Homo sapiens: one gene and its partner. The protein of the gene in region 1 interacts with the protein of each later gene in a pairwise test. Each region holds a gene or a part of one and is shown in the gene's direction. Other genes may lie near its edges.

Region 1 (9,460 bases):
TCCTAGATGGACGCTGACAAACCCAAGTAGCGCCTTACATTGTCGGGCGAGGACCAGACTCCAAGTTAAAAGGCCGGCCGGGCTATCAGTGGCAGAGAGCAGAGCCTCAAACACGAAAAGCCAGAAAGCGCTGCAGAGGCGTGGAAGGTGCGCCCCGCTTCGCTCCCCATGCTGGTCCTCTGGGAACTCAGGAGCCGGTGCACGCTCTGGTGGGCTCATAGAGATGTAGCTTTGGGGGCGATGGGAAGGACTTGCCACGCTCCCACCCACCCTCCATCCCGAGAGAGTGCAAGGGAGACGCAACTGTCTTCATCCCTATCCCGGGCTGGCGCCCGAACTAGAGAGTGTACTTCTTCCCTAGCTCCTGCACCACCGTCTGTGTGTACGTCTGTCTGTCCCTCCCAGTCCTTGCTCGGTCCTAGGCTTTCATTTGAAGGCAGCTGAGGGAGAAAGAAACTGCAAACCCCTTTGGTTCTGTTTCCTTGCTTTCAATAATGAATCGAGACAGCGTGTGTGTGGTGAGGGAGTGACGAGTTTCAACGTGATGAAGGAGATAAAACCCGACGGTGGGGTCCTGCCAGTGGCTCCATGCGTCACTGAAACATTGGGTCTCAAAACGGATAGATCTCCGGAGACGCAGAGGTTCGCGCGGATGTCCAGAGGAGGACAGCGCCCCTGCAGCCACCCGCGGAGCCCAGGGCCAGGGTCAAAACCCTGCCGCAAGGGCTCGGAGCTCCAAGCAGTTATGCTGAGGGCGCCGGTCCCAGGCCGCCTTGCTATGACACGGGTTTCCAGTGAAGCCCAAGCGGATTCCACGGCCCCACATCACCGGAGGAGCCAGGCTGCCCCGGGATGGATGGGGTCCGCGCGCTCCGAGAGGAATGGGCTAGTCAATGTGCGCTGCTAGGAGTGTGTGGTAATCAATCGCCACCCCTGCCAAAACCAAGGACCCCCTGTGTCGGGCGTCTTCAGCCAGCCGCGAGGGGGCGCGGATCTGAGAGAGTCGCACCCCGGGACCCCAGCTCTTCCTACTCCACCCCAGGCAGGGCCCGCGCAGGCCGTCCAAGGCCTGTTCTCTGAACCACCTGGGTTGGGCCGCGAAATATGGGACCTCAGGCATGGAATTGTGGCTGCACAGGTGATCACGGCTTCCTAGTCCTTCTTAGAGCAGAACCTGTCCCACTCCAGCCCACCTCTGCGCCCCCTTCGGAAGGAAGCCTACTGGAGCTGGAATTCCAGCGTGGGTGGCGAACTCTCAAGCCAAGAGCTGGAGCTGATGGAGGCAGGAGGGACGCACTTCCAAGCCATCCGGGCTCCTCCGTAGCCAGTGAGCCTCCTTTAACCCCTCCACTGGCCTGGATGACGGCCTAGGCGAGACTTTGGCAGTGTGGCGCGACCCCAGCGCTCCCCCGCCCTCGGGCTCGGGGGCGCGGTGGGTACCGCGCCCGCGCCCGGCCCTCGCCACTAGGCGCCGCTGCGCTCACGCCGATCGGGGCCCCGGGTCGCCGCGCCCGCCTGGCGAGAGGCCTCTGGGGAAGACGCCAGAAAGGGATTTGTCGTAATAATTTTTAAAAAATGTTTTTAGGGCATTAATTATACTTTTCGTTTTCTCACCGCCACCCTGCGCGTTCGGAGAGGCCGGCGTGACTGGGGATCTCAGTGGGTTGGAGGAATTCTTAACGCCCCCGAGGCCTTTCCAACTCGGGACACCATTCTCGCGCCTCGGGCCGGGAAAGGGCTCGCCCTTCACGGGCGTCGGTGCGGTCCGCGGCGAGCCGCGGGAGCACAGGGCGGGCTCAGCATTCTGGTTCAACGTGAGGACCAGAACCTCGGCGATCAGGGACCAGGACGTGGCAGAGTGCAGCGGGTAGCTTCGACGGCACAAGGCCATGGCCTAGCAATAACTAAAATGTGATGAACGCTAACAGTGTGCTAAATATGAGCTCACTCACTCTCTCAACAACCGTTAACACATCGCTATTTCCTTTTCACAGATGAGTCAACCGTGGCTTAAGAAGGTGAAAGTCACACAGGTGGTGACCCCAGACAGCTCCCACACACCTATTCTCAGTTGCAGGAGGCCATGCACCCACCCCAGGTACCTCACAGGCCTAGCACGGAGCGCAGCTATAGTGAAGCACTGCCCTTTGCTCCTTTGAAGCCCGGGGGCACCTTGCAGGAAACTCCTAGCAGATGCTTATCAGAGATCCCCAGGAGTCTCCGCCCTTTGACACCAACCAAGGAGCCAGGACTCCAGGCCTTGCTCACCCCAAAATCTCCCTAGAAAAGCTCTCAGCTTTTGGGGGAGCACGGAGGAGTGTGGCAGGAGTGTCAGCATTAGCTGATGTTTGTACAGCTATATTGTTCACAGACTCTGAAACCCAGTAACAAGCCTTGGAGGTGGGTATGTAATAGCAGCATCAAGGACAGGAGCAAACTTTTATTGTAGTTCATTATGTGCCAGACACTGTCTAAGCACTTTACTTTGTTTATCTCATTGAACAAACCCAGAGCAAAGGTACTATATTATTTATTCCCATTTCAGAGAAGAGAAAACCGAGGCACAGAGAAGTTAGGTAACTTGCCCAAGGTCACACAGTTAAGCTGTAAATGCAAGTCTCTCATCTTGGGGGATGGGGGCAGGTGTATTAAAGTATAATTACATATAGTAAAACTCACCCTTTGTAGTATATGGTTCTGTGAGTTTTGAAAAACACATAGAGTCATGTAAATACCACCACAATCAGGAAGTAGGATAGTTCTATCTTTCTCCAAAACAAGCCCACTGCTACTCCCCACTGCCTCCCAGACAGCATTGGCTGTATTTTTACATATGACAAAATGAGGTGGGGAGGTTTCTGTGTTGCCCAAGGTCATTCAGTGACAGATTCGGAATTAGAACGTTTGAATGTGTCTGCTAGTCCAGCTACCTGGAAAGGTAGATTCCTCAGTCTACAGAGCCCAAGAGGCAGCAGTGGCTTGGGGCACACATGGGGCAGAGGGAGGAAGCCCCTTGCTCTAAGCTGGAGCCTCAGAAATCCCCACATCTCCCACTCCACGCAGGGCTACTTAACCAAACACCCACTCCTTGGGCAGCTAAGGAACAAAGGTGGCTGTATTCTGCAAGGCCTAAATCCACAAGTAAAGTTGAGTGGCAGGGCAGCTGCGCCATCTAGGAGCTTAGGGTCCAGTCCAGACCACAGTGCCCAGTGCCCTGGCACGACTCCACTGGCCAGTCTGGTTAATGAGTTACTATCCTAGTTAATTTCCCTGCACATCGGGGCCAGACCCCGCGAACCTTCCCGGGCCCTTCTGGCCCCGGGAATTAGCATAGATTACCCATGCATGAATTAGCATAGATTACCCAGCTTCTGGGGTTCTGAACTGCCCGACTCACTGGAAACCTGCTTCTCCTTCAAGGGGCTGGAGTGCAGCTCGGGTCTAGCAGCACTTGGAGCAGAGGAACTAGCATATCCTGGTTCCTTCAGGAAGGGGGACACCAGATCTCAGATCCTGCTGCCCCTTTACCCCTGCCTACGTGTTGGCTAGCTAGAGCCCCTGGGGCAAACCTGGCCACAGAAGGGCAGTTTATAAAAGGCAGGTAGCCTGCAGAGGATGCCGACTGACTGAAGTGGGACTGTGGAGCACTCTACCCCTCTACTGCAGCCAGATGTCCCTGCCTGGGGCAGAAGGCTGAGGGGTCCCATCTCCAGCCCAACACTGTCCTGGTTAAGGGAATAATGATTGCACCTTAGCGCCCAGGGCTGCAAGTTTTAAAAGAGGGAAGGCACCCATCACCCTTATACATCACAAACCATCTGGGTCTCACCCAATCTCCCAGACAGACTGGATACCTGTTGCCCTAAAGGTCAATGACTTTTATGCCCCCATCCAAGATCACTAAGGGTGGAGTTTCAGTGGCTCCAGTTTGCAACCTCTGAGTCTCAGGCTGAGTTTGGAGGGTCTGGCCTGAGGGCACTGCCAGAATCTGGCCCTCCAGTCCTCCTTCTGAAGTTTGCATGAAAGGTGCACTCTCCTGCTTGCCAGGATTCAGGATGCACAGTCTGCCTAAGCTGAGTGTTTGTTTCCAGCCTCAAAAACCTGAGGGCGGACCTCTAGCTCCACCCTAAGCTTACTGGCTGGGCACAGCCAAAAGACCTCCCCCCTCTGCCATGTCTTCAGGCTCCCTGCTGGCCTAGCTGGGGTTAGAGGAGAGGCCTGTAACCTCACAGCCTAATTGAGAGAGGGATTTCCAAACTGTAGACAATATTTTGGGGGACAGTGGTCCAGGCCCAAGGGAGGTGCATCTTTAAGTGCACCCCTACCCCAAGGGCTGGATCCAAAGCCCAGAATCTTTGGGCCTGGAAAAAGGGGAGGAGGAGAAAGCAAAGCCACCTGGAACTGACAGAGGGACAATACTGGGCTAGGACCCCAGCCCAGAACTTCGAAGCCTAAGGGAAAGGCAGGTGTCTCCCACTGTGAGGGCAAAGCTGAGGCGCACACCTGTCTCATCTGTGAAGATGTGTATGTGTGTTCCCTGGGAAGGTGTGGGGTGGGGGCAACAAAGATGATCTCTGCCAGTTCCTCACGAATCTGTCTGGTGCCCTGACAACCCCGGAAAACACTGCTCCCAACTCCTCTCTTGCCTGGTTTCCCAAAAGAGGTTTTTGGACACTTGCCCCAACACAACATTATATCTGGAATAAAGGAGTAATTGACACAAACATAAATATACACCAGATGAAACCAAGGGAGGAAGCAGGTAGCTCGTCCTGAGACCTGTCCCCTCAACTATGCATCTGGTGGCAGTGCAGCCTGGCTCACGGTGGACTTCACTCTTCTCCTCCCATTGCCATCGGCTTCCCAGGTTTCACGGCAACCTAGTCACCAAACACAGGCAATTCTGCGTTCTTAGGAGAAATGACAGGGGCCTGGGAGTAATAGTTTTAAACGACGCTAGAATTTTTTTTTATCATTAATTGTAAACGTGCAAAATACCTGCTGGTACTTCACTTTAGAAGAATGTAATTGGCAAAAGGAAAAAAAGGAAAAAAGAGGCGGCTGATGAATAGATAATAGATCTTTAACCACCAATAAACAGAGAGCAGCGCCAGCAGCCTGGGGATGTGATCATAATTATGCCGCCGCGCGAGCCAATGGGGACGAGGGAACTCGGTCCTAAAATCATCCCAAAACCGAAGGCGAGCTCGAAAATGCGGACACGGCCCGGGACCGGAGATGCGATCCGTAGTCGTTAGTTGCACTGGGTTTGCACAGCAACCACCACCCCCCCACCAACCCCGGGACAACAGATGGCATAATAATAATAATAGAAATAATAATAATAAAATAATATCATCTATAATAATAATAACATTGACCACACTGACAAAAATAATTACGACGGAACCTTAATAGTACAGTAGCACCATATCGGGCTCTCCCCTGACCTTGGACTGCCGGTCCCAGATATTCCAGAAGGAATTGTTTTGGGGAAGGAGGTGAGCACCCTCCCAGACAGAAAACGCTAGAGACCGTGGGGCGAGAGAGGGAGAGAGTTGGAAGCCCACTGCTCCGGCGGGGTCGGCAGCTCCCGGTCTCAACTCGCAAACGAACGAGCCGGGTCAAGAATCGCGAACGCACCGACCCTGGGACCTCGAGGCTAAGCGTGGTTGATGGGGTGGGAGGACCCCGTACCCCTCACTCCAGGATCCCTCCTGGCCTAGGAAACCGCTGGGAGTTTTGCTAAGTGTGGGGATTGGTATAACCGAACGGCGCCTTTAGCCCGGGAACCAGCCCCTGCCCGCTTACCCTCGCGGTGCTCTTGGGGCGATCCCAGTTCTCCCGACGCGGGGCCGCGTAAGGCAGCAGCGGCGGAGCGCTAGGCTAGAGGAATCTGTCTGTCCTTCTGTCCTACCAGCTTGGGCGAGGCAGGCTCGGGATTCAGGGGGCCGCAGCGGAGGCGGCGCCGGCCAGGGACTCTGCAGGGACCGGGGTGCCCCGGAGGGAGTGGTGCTGGTGGAGGAGGAGGCGGTGGCTGAGGGGGAGTAGGTGGGGAAAGAGGAGGAGGAAGAAGAGGAGGAGGAGGAAGAAGAGGAGGAGGAGGAGAAGAAGAAACTGGAGGAAGAGGAGGAGGCGAAGGAGGAGGAGAAGCCGCAGCGGGCGCCGCAGGAGCGAGTGAGCTGGGAGCGAGGGGCGAAGGCGCGGAGAAGCCCGGCCGCCCGGTGGGCGGCAGAAGGCTCAGCCGAGGCGGCGGCGCCGACTCCGTTCCACTCTCGGCCCGGATCCAGGCCTCCGGGTTCCCAGGCGCTCACCTCCCTCTGACGCACTTTAAAGAGTCTCCCCCCTTCCACCTCAGGGCGAGTAATAGCGACCAATCATCAAGCCATTTACCAGGCTTCGGAGGAAGCTGTTTATGTGATCCCCGCACTAATTAGGCTCATGAACTAACAAATCGTTTGCACAACTTGTGAAGAAGCGAACACTTCCATGGATTGTCCTTGGACTTAGGGCGCCCTGCCCGCCTTTTGCAGAGGAGAAAAAACTTTTTTTTTTTTTTGCCTCCCCCGAGAACTTTCCCCCCTTCTCCTCCCTGCCTCTAACTCCGATCCCCCCACGCCATCTCGCCAAAAAAAAAAAAAAAAAAAAAAAAGAAAAAAAAAGAAAAAAAAAGAAAAAAAATTACCCCAATCCACGCCTGCAAATTCTTCTGGAAGGATTTTCCCCCCTCTCTTCAGGTTGGGCGCGTTTGGTGCAAGATTCTCGGGATCCTCGGCTTTGCCTCTCCCTCTCCCTCCCCCCTCCTTTCCTTTTTCCTTTCCTTTCCTTTCTTTCTTCCTTTCCTTCCCCCCACCCCCACCCCCACCCCAAACAAACGAGTCCCCAATTCTCGTCCGTCCTCGCCGCGGGCAGCGGGCGGCGGAGGCAGCGTGCGGCGGTCGCCAGGAGCTGGGAGCCCAGGGCGCCCGCTCCTCGGCGCAGCATGTTCCAGCCGGCGCCCAAGCGCTGCTTCACCATCGAGTCGCTGGTGGCCAAGGACAGTCCCCTGCCCGCCTCGCGCTCCGAGGACCCCATCCGTCCCGCGGCACTCAGCTACGCTAACTCCAGCCCCATAAATCCGTTCCTCAACGGCTTCCACTCGGCCGCCGCCGCCGCCGCCGGTAGGGGCGTCTACTCCAACCCGGACTTGGTGTTCGCCGAGGCGGTCTCGCACCCGCCCAACCCCGCCGTGCCAGTGCACCCGGTGCCGCCGCCGCACGCCCTGGCCGCCCACCCCCTACCCTCCTCGCACTCGCCACACCCCCTATTCGCCTCGCAGCAGCGGGATCCGTCCACCTTCTACCCCTGGCTCATCCACCGCTACCGATATCTGGGTCATCGCTTCCAAGGTACGTGCCACGTCGCGGAACTGCAGCGCGCCGCTCCCGCCGCATCCTTCACTGCCCCCGGCCTGCTCCGGGTGGGCGCTTGGCAAGGCCTGGGCGGAGGTTCCTCCGGCTCGCGGGCCAGCGCGCCCTGTTGGGAAACTAGGCGGCGCGGGGCCGGGCGTGGTGTCGATCCCCAGTCTCCGAAGCTACGACTGGTTTGGAGTGATGGCCTGCGGGCCGCTTGACCCTTTGGGAAGGGGTGCGAACGGAGAAGTTGTCCCCCAGTGCGCTCGAATCAGAGCAGGCTGGGCTGTGCGTGCCCGGCGCCGCGGAGCCCAGAGCCCGCGGGATCCCCAGGCTCCTGGTACCCTCGGCAATGCCCCCAACCGTCCTGGCTCCGAGGGGCGCGGACAGGACTCGGCCGCCAGGCTTGCTTTCGACTGCGTTCGACCCTGTTCACCACCCACTTTGCGCCCCTTCAGTCCAGACCCGCGGCTTCTTAGTCTTCCACCCTCTTCTGGAGGCGAGAGGATCCTCGCGCCCCGGGAGAAAAGTATGGGATTTGTTTTTTCTTTCCTGCTTTTCGGAGGCCTGGGGAGGGGCGGGAACCCGTGCGGGAGGAAAGCTCCAGGGCTTGGCGCTCTCGCCGCGACCTGCTTAATTGGGGCGCCGAGCAGCCACAGCGGGAAGGCAGGTTCGGTCTGGTTTTTGTTTTTCTTTCTTTCTTTAAAAAAAAAAAAAAAGAACCTGGTCAGGAAACTGTCTTAGAGGGAAATATCTGTTCGTGTGTTTTCATTTCTTGCGATATTTTTTATTTGTTTGTTTTTCTCTGGGTACGGGGTGGGAGGAGGAGAGTTAAAACTTCAGAAAAAGGAGTAATTAGTTTACGGATTGGAGTCAGTAAAAGACCTACCTCCGGCGGCAGCCGATCAATACTCCGCGGCTTGTCCATTCATTAACCCATTGCGTTCCTGCCGGAGCCTAGAATCGGGTAGATGTCACCCCCCTCCCCATATTTTAAAAAATCAAACCAAAGGAAAAAAAACCCAAAAAGCCTTTTACCCTTAATCCCGAACTGGATTTGCCTGCATCCTGCCTGGACTGTCGGCTTGTTTTTCTTTGTTTGGGTTTTCGGTGAATCGATTTCCTATGCTAATGAGTGAACCCAAAACTCTGAGGCTTTGCTTGAAAAGTTTAGGGCTGCCCTTCCTCATTCGCTATCAGTCATGCTTATGGTCCCCTCACCAGACCCGGAGCCGCTGGGATCTTCCTGCGTTACAGACTGTCCTGGCGGTGTCTGCAAGTCGGTAACCCCCCGGGTTTCGATCCCTTCGCTCGCGTTTCTCTTCTAGTTCTCGGGAGCCGGGAGCCCCGGAGCCCAGTTCGCGAGAGGCAGCAGCGGCTGTAGCCAAGCACACCCGCCGGCCAGATTTCTGTCCCGATCGGGCTTCAACGACTCGCCCCGCCTCTATACTTTTCCGGAGGGGCAATAAAACAAATAATTTAAAAATAAATCTCCATGAAAACTCTGGAGAGCAGCCCGCCGCCTTTCCACCGTGGGTCAAAGTTCCCCGAGAGGTTAGAAAGAAGAGAAAGTAGTTTCTTCGGGTTGTGGGCGCCAATCCCCTGGCCAGGCTCTGCGGCTCCCTCCCCTGCCTCCAGCGCCCGGCGAGGAGGTGGCGAGGCCCGCGGCGCCAGGGCGGCTGCGGAGCCGGCCGAGGTCAGGAGCCTGGGGACTGGCTCCTCTGCGACAGCGGCTGGTTGGGTGCCGCACCGGTGGAGACCCGGCGTTCCGGGCCGGGCAGCTGAGCAGGCGTTCCCTTCGTGAGCCCTTGGGAGGACCACCGGCCCCCGCAGGTCGAGCGGCGCGGCTATGCGAAGGCCCTGAGCACGGTGCCGGGCCAGCCCGGCTCGGGAGAAGTGCGCGGCTCCGGTCAGAGCAGCCCCCCCTAATGGGATTTCTGCTGTGCTCCCCGCAGGGAACGACACTAGCCCCGAGAGTTTCCTTTTGCACAACGCGCTGGCCCGAAAGCCCAAGCGGATCCGAACCGCCTTCTCCCCGTCCCAGCTTCTAAGGCTGGAACACGCCTTTG
Region 2 (8,443 bases), on another chromosome or scaffold:
CTCTTGCTATTACAACTAAAAACTCTGGATATCATATACAAAACAAACACAAGACTCCAAAAAGTGGAAAGAAGGCAGACCACATAGGGTCTTCAGGACAGGAGGAATGACATGAATTTTCTTTTTGATTCATATATCTTAGACTTGAAGTTAAAGAAGCCAACAACCAAAAATACACTAACAGCCATAGACAAAAAGAGTCCCTATAAAAGCCTGTTTTCTCCAGCCAAGGGATTAGGAATGAATTAGCCTAGCAAGACAGAAAAGTTTTAGACAATAATCACTCTATGCCAGCCATAACCAGAGAAAAAAACAACTGTGGCCCCACCCCCACCAGCAAAGACTGAGTGGGGAGACTAGACTTCCAATAATGATCAAAGGATGGATATACCAAGAAGATACAAAGATCCTAAAATGTGTAGGATTTGCAACAGAGGTGCAAAATATGAAAAGCTAAGCCTGATAGAGCTGAAAGGAGAAATAGAAAAGGCTACAATTACAGTCAGAGACTTCAAAACTCCTCTCTCAACAATAAACATAAGAATTAGACAGAAAATCAGCAAGATATAAAAGAATTGAACAACATCATGAACCACTGGGATCTAAACAACATTTTTAGAGCACTCCACCCAACAGGAGCAAAACATGAATTCTTTAAAGTGCCCATGGAACATATATTAAGATAGGCCATACTCTGGGCCATAAACTAAACAAACCCTAACAAATTTAAATGAATTGAAATCATATACAAATGTGTTCTCTAACCACAAAGGAATCTGTGTTAGGCTATTCTTGCATAGCTATATATAAAGAAATACCGGCTGGGCCAGGAGCGGTAGCTCATGCCTGTAATCCCAGCACCTTGGGAGGCGGAGGCGGGTGGATTACTTGAGGTCAGGAGCTCAAGACCAGCCTGGCCAACATGGCGAAAACCTATCTCTACTAAAAATACAAAAATTAGCTGCTAGAGGCTGAGGCAGGAGAATCACTTGAAGCCAGGACGCAGAGGTTGCAGTGAGCCGAGATCACGCCATTGCACTCTAGCCTGGGTGACAGAGCGAGACTGTCTCAAAAAGAAAAAAAAAGGAAAAATACCTGAGATTGGGTAAGTTATAAACAAAAGAGAAAAGAGGTTTAATTGGCTCATGGTTCTGATGGCTGTACAGGAAGCATAGCAGCTTCTGCTTTTTAGGGAGATCTCAGGACACTTCCAATCATGGAGGAAGGAGCAAGAAAGAGATGAGGGGAGGTGCCACACACTTTTGAACAACTAGATTTCACAGGAACTCACTCACAATCTCAAGGACAGTACCAAGAGGATGGTGCTAAACCACTCATGAGAAATCTGCCCCCCATGATCCAATCACCTCCCACAGGCCCCGCCTCCAACAGAGGGTATTACAATTCAACATGAGGTTTGGGCAGGGACACAGACCCAAACCATATCAGAATCAAAGTAGAAATCATTAATAGATAACAGGAAAACCTACAAACACTTGGAAGCTAATAACTCACTTGTAAATAATCCATGGGCCAAAAAGTCTCAAGGAAAACCAAAAAGTACATTGAACTGAAGGATAATGAAAACTAAACATATCAAAACATGGGAGAACCAGTTAAAGTAGTACTGAGAAGGAAGTTTATATCACTAAGCGTATACTTTGGAAAAAGAGAAAAAGTCTGAAAGCAATTATTCAAGCTCCCACCTCAAGAACCTAGCAAAAGAAGAGCAAACTAAACCCAAAGCAAGCAGAAGGAAGAATATAATAAATAGCATAAACTAATGAAATCTAAAACAGAAAATCAATGGGGAAAATCAATAAGACAACATGCTAGTTCTTTGAAAAGATCAATAAAATTGACAAATCTTTAGCAAGACTGACAAAGAACAAAAGAGGAAACACAAATTACCAATAAAGCAGGGAATACCACTATAAATCCTCCCAACATCAAACAATAAAAATGGAATACTACAAATAATTCTGCACACATAAATTTGACTACTCAGAATAAATGGACCAATTCCTCAAAAAACACAAGCTACCAAAATTCACTCAATATGAAATATATAATTTGATTAGTCCTATTAAGGAAAACTTTTTTTTAATTTTAAAACTCCCAAGAAAGTGATCTCTTGGCCCTGATGGTTTCACTGGAGAATCCTATCAAATGTTTAAAGAAGAATTATTACTGATTTTACACAATCTCTTTCCAAAAAAATAGAAGAGGAAGGAACACTTCCCTCCTCTTCTTGTGAAGTTAGTATTTACCCTGACACTAAAACTAAACAAAACAGTACCAAAAAAGAAAACTGCAGACCAATACCTCTCATGAACATAGATTTTTTTTAATCCTTTTTTAAATTACCAAAAGAATTCCTCAACATATAAAAATAATGATAAACTATGACCAAATCAGGTTGATTTCTGAAATGCAAGACTAGCTTAATACTTAAAAATCAATCACTATAGTCTATCATATTAATAGGTTATAGAAGAAAAATCATATTGGCATATCAATACAGAAAAAACATTGACAACATTTAATACCCATTCATGTCAAAAACTCTCAGAAAAATAGGAATAGATGGGAAAGGCCTCAACTAGATAAATAACATTTACAAAATCCTACAGCTAACATCATACTTATCAGTGAAAGATGAAATTCTTTTCCTCCTAAAATCAAGATCAAAACAAGGATGTCTGCCCTTGCCACTCTTATCCAACATAGTGCTGGAAGTTCTAATCAGCACTATAAGGCAAGAAAAGGAAATAAAAGACATACTTACTGGAAAGGATGAAATAAAACTGTCCCTATTCACAGATGACATGATTGCCTACATAGAAAATTCCAAGGAATCAAGGGGGGAAAAAACCTCCTAGAAATAATTAGCTAGTTAAGCAAGGTCACAGAACACAAGATAAACAAAAAAAGTCAATTGTATTTTTATATACTAGCAATGACCATGTGAACATTGTAAATGTTCACATTATAAAAATACAATACCATTTACAATCACTCAAAAAAAGAGAAATGCTTAAGTGTAAATCTAACAAAATATGCACAGGATTTATATGCTGAAAATCATGCAGTGTCACTGAAAGAAATCAATGAAGATCTACGTAAATGGAGATACATACCCAGGTGTTCAAGGACTGGAAGACTCAACATAGTAAAGATGTCAATTCTCCCCAAATTGATATTCAGCTTGAACACGATTCCTACAAAAATCCTGGCCAGGCGCGGTGGCTCACGCCTGTAATCTCAGCATTTTGGGAGGCTGAGGTGAGAGGCTCGCTTGAGCCCAGGAGTTCGAAACCAGCCTGAGCAACATAGTGAGGCCCCGTTTCTACAAAAAGTAAAAAAAAAAAAAAAAAAAAAAAAGTTAGCTGGATATGGTGGTGTGTGTAGTCATCCCGGCACTTTGAGAGGCCAAGGCAGGGGGATCGCTTGAACTCAGGAGTTCAAGACCAGCCTGGCCAACATGGTGAAACCCTGTCTCTACTAAAAATACAAAAAGTATCCGGGTGTGGTGGTGTGCGCCTGTAGTCCCAGCTACTCAGGAGGCTGAGACATGAGACTTGCTTGAACCCAGAAGCTGGAGGCTGCAGTGAGCCGAGATCATGCCACTGCACTCCAGCCTGGGTGACAGAGCAAGACTCCGTCTCAAAAAAAAAAAGAAAAAAAAAGGAAGGAAGGAAACCAAGGAAGGAAGAAGAAAGAGAGTAAGAGAGAGAGAGAGAGGAAGAAAGAGAGTGAGAGAGAGAGAAAGAAAATAGGCAAATGAAGGGCTGAGCATGGTGTCTCACATCTGTAATCCCAGCACTTTGGAAGGCAGAGGTGGAGGACCACTTGAGCCCAGACTGGAGTGCAGTGCCGCTATCTTGGCTCACTACAACTTCTGCTTCCCAGGCTCAAGCTATCCTCCCACCTCAGCCCCCAGGAGTAGTTGGGACTACAGGCACACACCACCACACCTGGCTAATTTTTGTATTTCTAGTAGAGTTAGGGCTTCACCATGTTGCCCAGGCTGGTCTGGAACTCCTGACCTCAAGACATCCTCCCACCTTGGCCTCCCAAAGTGCTGGGATTACAGGCGTGAGCCACCGCATCTGGCAAAAAAAAAAAAAAAAAAAAAATTCCCCAAAATTAGCCAAGTATGGTGGTGCCTGTAGTCCCAGCTACTCAGGATGTTGAGGCAGGAGGATCACCTGAGCCTGAGCCCAGGAGTTTGAGGCTGCAATGAGCCATGATCACGCCACTGCATTCCACCCTCGGTGACAGAGCTAGACTCCACCCCCCCCAAAAAAAAGAGAGAGAAAATAGGCAAATGACATAAACATTTTACTGAAAAGGATATGGCATAGATGACAAATGAGCACATGAAAAAAGGAACATCATTAGCCATCAGGGAACTTCACACTTATCAAAATGGCTAAAATAAAAACTTGTGACTGGGCACAGTGGCTCATGCCAGCACTTTGGGAGGCCGAGGCGAGTAAATCACCTGAGGTCAGGAGTTCCAAGACCAGCCTGGCCAACACGGCGAAACCTCGTCTCTACTAAAAATACAAAAATTAGCCGGGCGTGGTGGCAGGCGCCTGTAGTCCCGGCTACCCGGGAGGCTGAGGCAGGAGAATCGCTTGGACCTGGGAGGCAGAGGTTGCAGTGAGCTGAGATTGCACCATTGCACTCCAGCCTGGGCGACAGAGCGAGACTCCGTTCCCCGCGCCCCCCCCTCAAAAAAAGAGTAAACTGAAAGGACTGTGTTTGCAGGAATGTAAGGAAATGTCCTTGTTCTGATGCACAAGTTAATGGTTCCCTGGTGAAGGGACCTGAAAGACTGGAGAAAAACGCACTGCTTCCTCAACAGTAGGGGCAATGCCAAGTCCAGGGTTAGAGCACATTCAGCGGTGTAGTATCTGTCATGTGGCTGTCAGGCATGGCTACTGCCTGCATTGTGTGCAGACTTGGAAATGAAGTCGGCTCTCAATCAGCGAAAGACTCTACAGGCCCAACTGCCACACACATTGCAGGAAGGCCATATTTGAATCCCGCCAAAAACCTTTGCTGTGGGGTCCAATGGGCTCATACTTCCGGTCTCCCAACAGCCAATCCTAGCACTGGGCATTTGCGGGTGGCCCAGCAAGTGGCCTAGCACTTGCGGGGGCGTGGCCATGGAGACACAGTGACCAAAGGCAGAGAAGAATGCGAATGGGGGAGGGGAAGCGGAGGCTGAGGTGAGCCTAGAGCGGCGGTTAGAGCCGGTGAGGTGAAAGAGAGCGACCGTTAGGACAGGCTGAGGACTTCTGGTCTGTTCGGTACTTGAACTGCCAGCAAATTTCAACTCCCGCTTGCCATTCAACATCATGGATGATCCGAAGAGTGAACAGCAGCGCATACTGCGCCGCCACCAACGCGAGAGGCAGGAGCTGCAGGCCCAGATCCGGAGCTTAAAAAACTCGGTCCCCAAGACCGACAAGACGAAAAGAAAGCAGTTGCTCCAAGACGTGGCCCGCATGGAGGCCGAGATGGCTCAGAAGCACCGGCAGGAGCTGGAGAAGTTCCAAGACGACAGTAGCATTGAATCTGTCGTCGAAGACCTGGCCAAGATGAATCTGGAAAACCGGCCTCCCCGCTCCTCCAAAGCCCACAGAAAGAGAGAAAGAATGGAGTCCGAGGAGAGGGAGCGCCAGGAGAGCATCTTCCAGGCTGAGATGTCGGAGCACCTGGCCGGCTTCAAGCGCGAGGAGGAGGAGAAGCTCGCCGCCATCCTGGGAGCCAGGGGTCTGGAGATGAAAGCGATCCCGGCCGACGGCCACTGCATGTACCGCGCCATCCAAGACCAGCTGGTGTTCAGCGTGTCTGTGGAGATGCTGCGCTGCCGCACCGCCAGCTACATGAAGAAGCACGTCGACGAGTTCCTGCCCTTCTTCAGCAACCCCGAGACCAGCGACTCCTTCGGCTACGACGACTTCATGATCTACTGCGACAACATCGTGCGCACCACGGCATGGGGAGGCCAGCTGGAGCTGAGGGCCCTGTCGCACGTCCTGAAGACCCCCATCGAGGTGATCCAGGCCGACTCGCCCACCTTGATCATCGGGGAGGAGTACGTCAAGAAGCCGATCATCCTGGTCTACCTGCGCTATGCCTACAGCCTCGGCGAGCACTACAACTCCGTGACACCGCTCGAGGCCGGCGCCGCCGGGGGCGTGCTCCCGCGTCTCCTGTAGGCCCCAAGGCGCTGAGCAGCCCCGGGAAACTGTCGCCGTCGCCGCATCTCCTCAGTAGGCTCAGTTTATTTTCCCCTTTTGCTTTTCTCTGTTTTTCTTTTCCTTCCTTTTAATCAAAACTACCCGCCCCCGCCCCGCCCCCGCTTTCCTAACCTTGCTGCTTTCACAGGGTGGGAAACGAAATTCGAGGGAAATTCCCCGGAAATATGAGGGAAATCTCTGCATTGCACCACCAGAGGGGCATAAATTTGAAAGTTCTAACCTCTTCTTGCCCTTAAGGGTCTTTTACCTCCCTCACCAACTAAGATTTGGTCATGTTGCGTATAACTTCACCACAAAAATGGAAATATTGGCCGGGCGCGGTGGCTCACGCCTGTAATCCCAGCACTTTGGGAGGCCGAGGCGGGCGGATCACGAGGTCAGGAGTTCGAGACCAGCCTGGCCAACATGGTGAAACCCCACCTCTACAAAAAATACAAAAATTAGCCGGGCGTGGTGGCAGGCACCTGTAGTCCCAGATACTCGGGAGGCTAAGGCAGGAGAATCGCTTGACGGGAAGCGGAGGTTGCAGTGAGCCGAGATCGTGCCTTTGCACTCCAGCGTGGAAGACAGTGAGACTCCGTCTCAAAAAAATGAAAAATTAGCCAGGCAGGTTGGCGGGGGCCTGTAATCCTAGCTACTTGGGGTGCTGAGGCAGGAGAATCAACTGAACCCGGGAGGCGGAGGCTGCAGTGGGCCGGGATCGTACTACTGCACTCCAGCATGGAAGACAGCGAGACTCCGTCTCCAAAAAAAAAAAAAGAAAAAAAGGAAATGTTAAGTTTCATGTGTTCTGGGAAAAATAAATCTAGTAGACTAGCTCGGGGAGTCTTCAGGTTTTCCTATGAATGTCTTGGATTACTTAGACAAAATTGGAGTTTATGTGATCAAAATGCCTTGTGAAGGCCTTTTGCTGAGTTTTGGGGGGAAAGATTGCCATGGTTTGCTATTTACTTAAGCTAGACTACTCAGGAGATGTCTCAAGTTATGAACAAGAGATCCGCTAGTACTTTGTTTTGTTTTCTTTTCATCAAAACTTGTGTGGTTCCTAATTAATTTTAGTTTCTCCCATGTTTGCTAATTCTAAATAACAGCATTTGTTAAAACATGTAAGGTAAATCTGTTAAATAGATAAAGTAAATTTAGATAAACTGATAGGCTAGATAAGGTTTACTCTAAGATGTGAAAGATCTGAACTTAATTTCCTTTACTAAAGGTAGGAAGAGATAGGACTTTATTCAAATAGTTGATACGTTTCATTATCTTTACAACTGGTATAAAGAAAAAAGAGACACATTGATAGGTAATTTACTTACTCTAAGGGGTGAAGATCTGAATCGAGTAAGTTTCCTTTATTCTTAGAGATATAAAGGTGTATGAATTTATTCAAGTACTTGATTGACCTTGTTATATCATCTGGTATGAAGTGTGAAAGATATGAATGTAACAACTTTCCTTATTTCTTAGAGATACAGAAATATCTAAAAAGATTCTTTAAAATATTAAAGTTTTATTCTATTTTGTTACATCAAAAGTGAACAATATACTTTTGTTATTTGAGACTTGTTAATATCCTTGAATTTTCCAAAAGAATATAAAATGAAATGATTTACAGTCAACAACTTATGAAAATTTTAATCTTTACTTTCTGTAATTCAGTGAGATTAATTTTGGAAATTCTTTCTACATTCCAAATGCTCTAAGATAAAATATATATGTTTTTGAAAGTTTTTAAACATGTAGTTTGTTCAAAAATAAAAACCATTTAAAAAATACCTGCTTCTCTGTTTTTGTGTAGCTAACTTCATATAGAGTTTATATCCCAGGATCTACTTAAGCAAAGGAATCCTGGAGGGTTAGGGAGCATAGGCCTGTTGCGGGTGGCGGGGTGGTGGTTGCTGACTGGGGACAGGGGCAAAGACTGCTGAAGGGCTCTAGAAATGGGAAAGGTGCTCTACTTCAGTGGGCTGCATAGGGTCAGGGAAGGGGGTGACAAGCTAAAAGAAGAGGCCTGGCTAGGGTAGGGGACCTTCATGGACAAAGAGGCCCAGCTGGGTAGCGGGGGCACAGGCTAGGAAAGAAGTCCTGGCTGAGGGAGGATGCCTGCAAAGGGTCCAGGCTGGAGGCTGGGGCATGGACTGGTGAAGGGTTCCTGGTAGGAGAAGGTG

What was found.
Region 2: the proteins of EMX2 (region 1) and OTUD6A interact in binary tests that used the Homo sapiens proteins (3 or more experiments, as listed by UniProt).

Annotation. Positions count from the first base shown.
Region 1 is NC_000010.11:117,536,286-117,545,745, forward strand, and holds the start of EMX2 (homeobox protein EMX2), read left to right. Parts: upstream 1-6,460; 5' UTR 6,461-6,982; coding exon 6,983-7,388; intron 7,389-8,020; exon of another isoform or gene 8,021-8,091; intron 8,092-8,280; exon of another isoform or gene 8,281-8,783; intron 8,784-9,346; coding exon 9,347-9,460. UniProt on the Homo sapiens protein: Transcription factor, which in cooperation with EMX1, acts to generate the boundary between the roof and archipallium in the developing brain. May function in combination with OTX1/2 to specify cell fates in the developing central nervous system.
Region 2 is NC_000023.11:70,057,156-70,065,598, forward strand, and holds OTUD6A (OTU domain-containing protein 6A), read left to right. Parts: upstream 1-5,301; 5' UTR 5,302-5,369; coding exon 5,370-6,236; 3' UTR 6,237-7,024; downstream 7,025-8,443.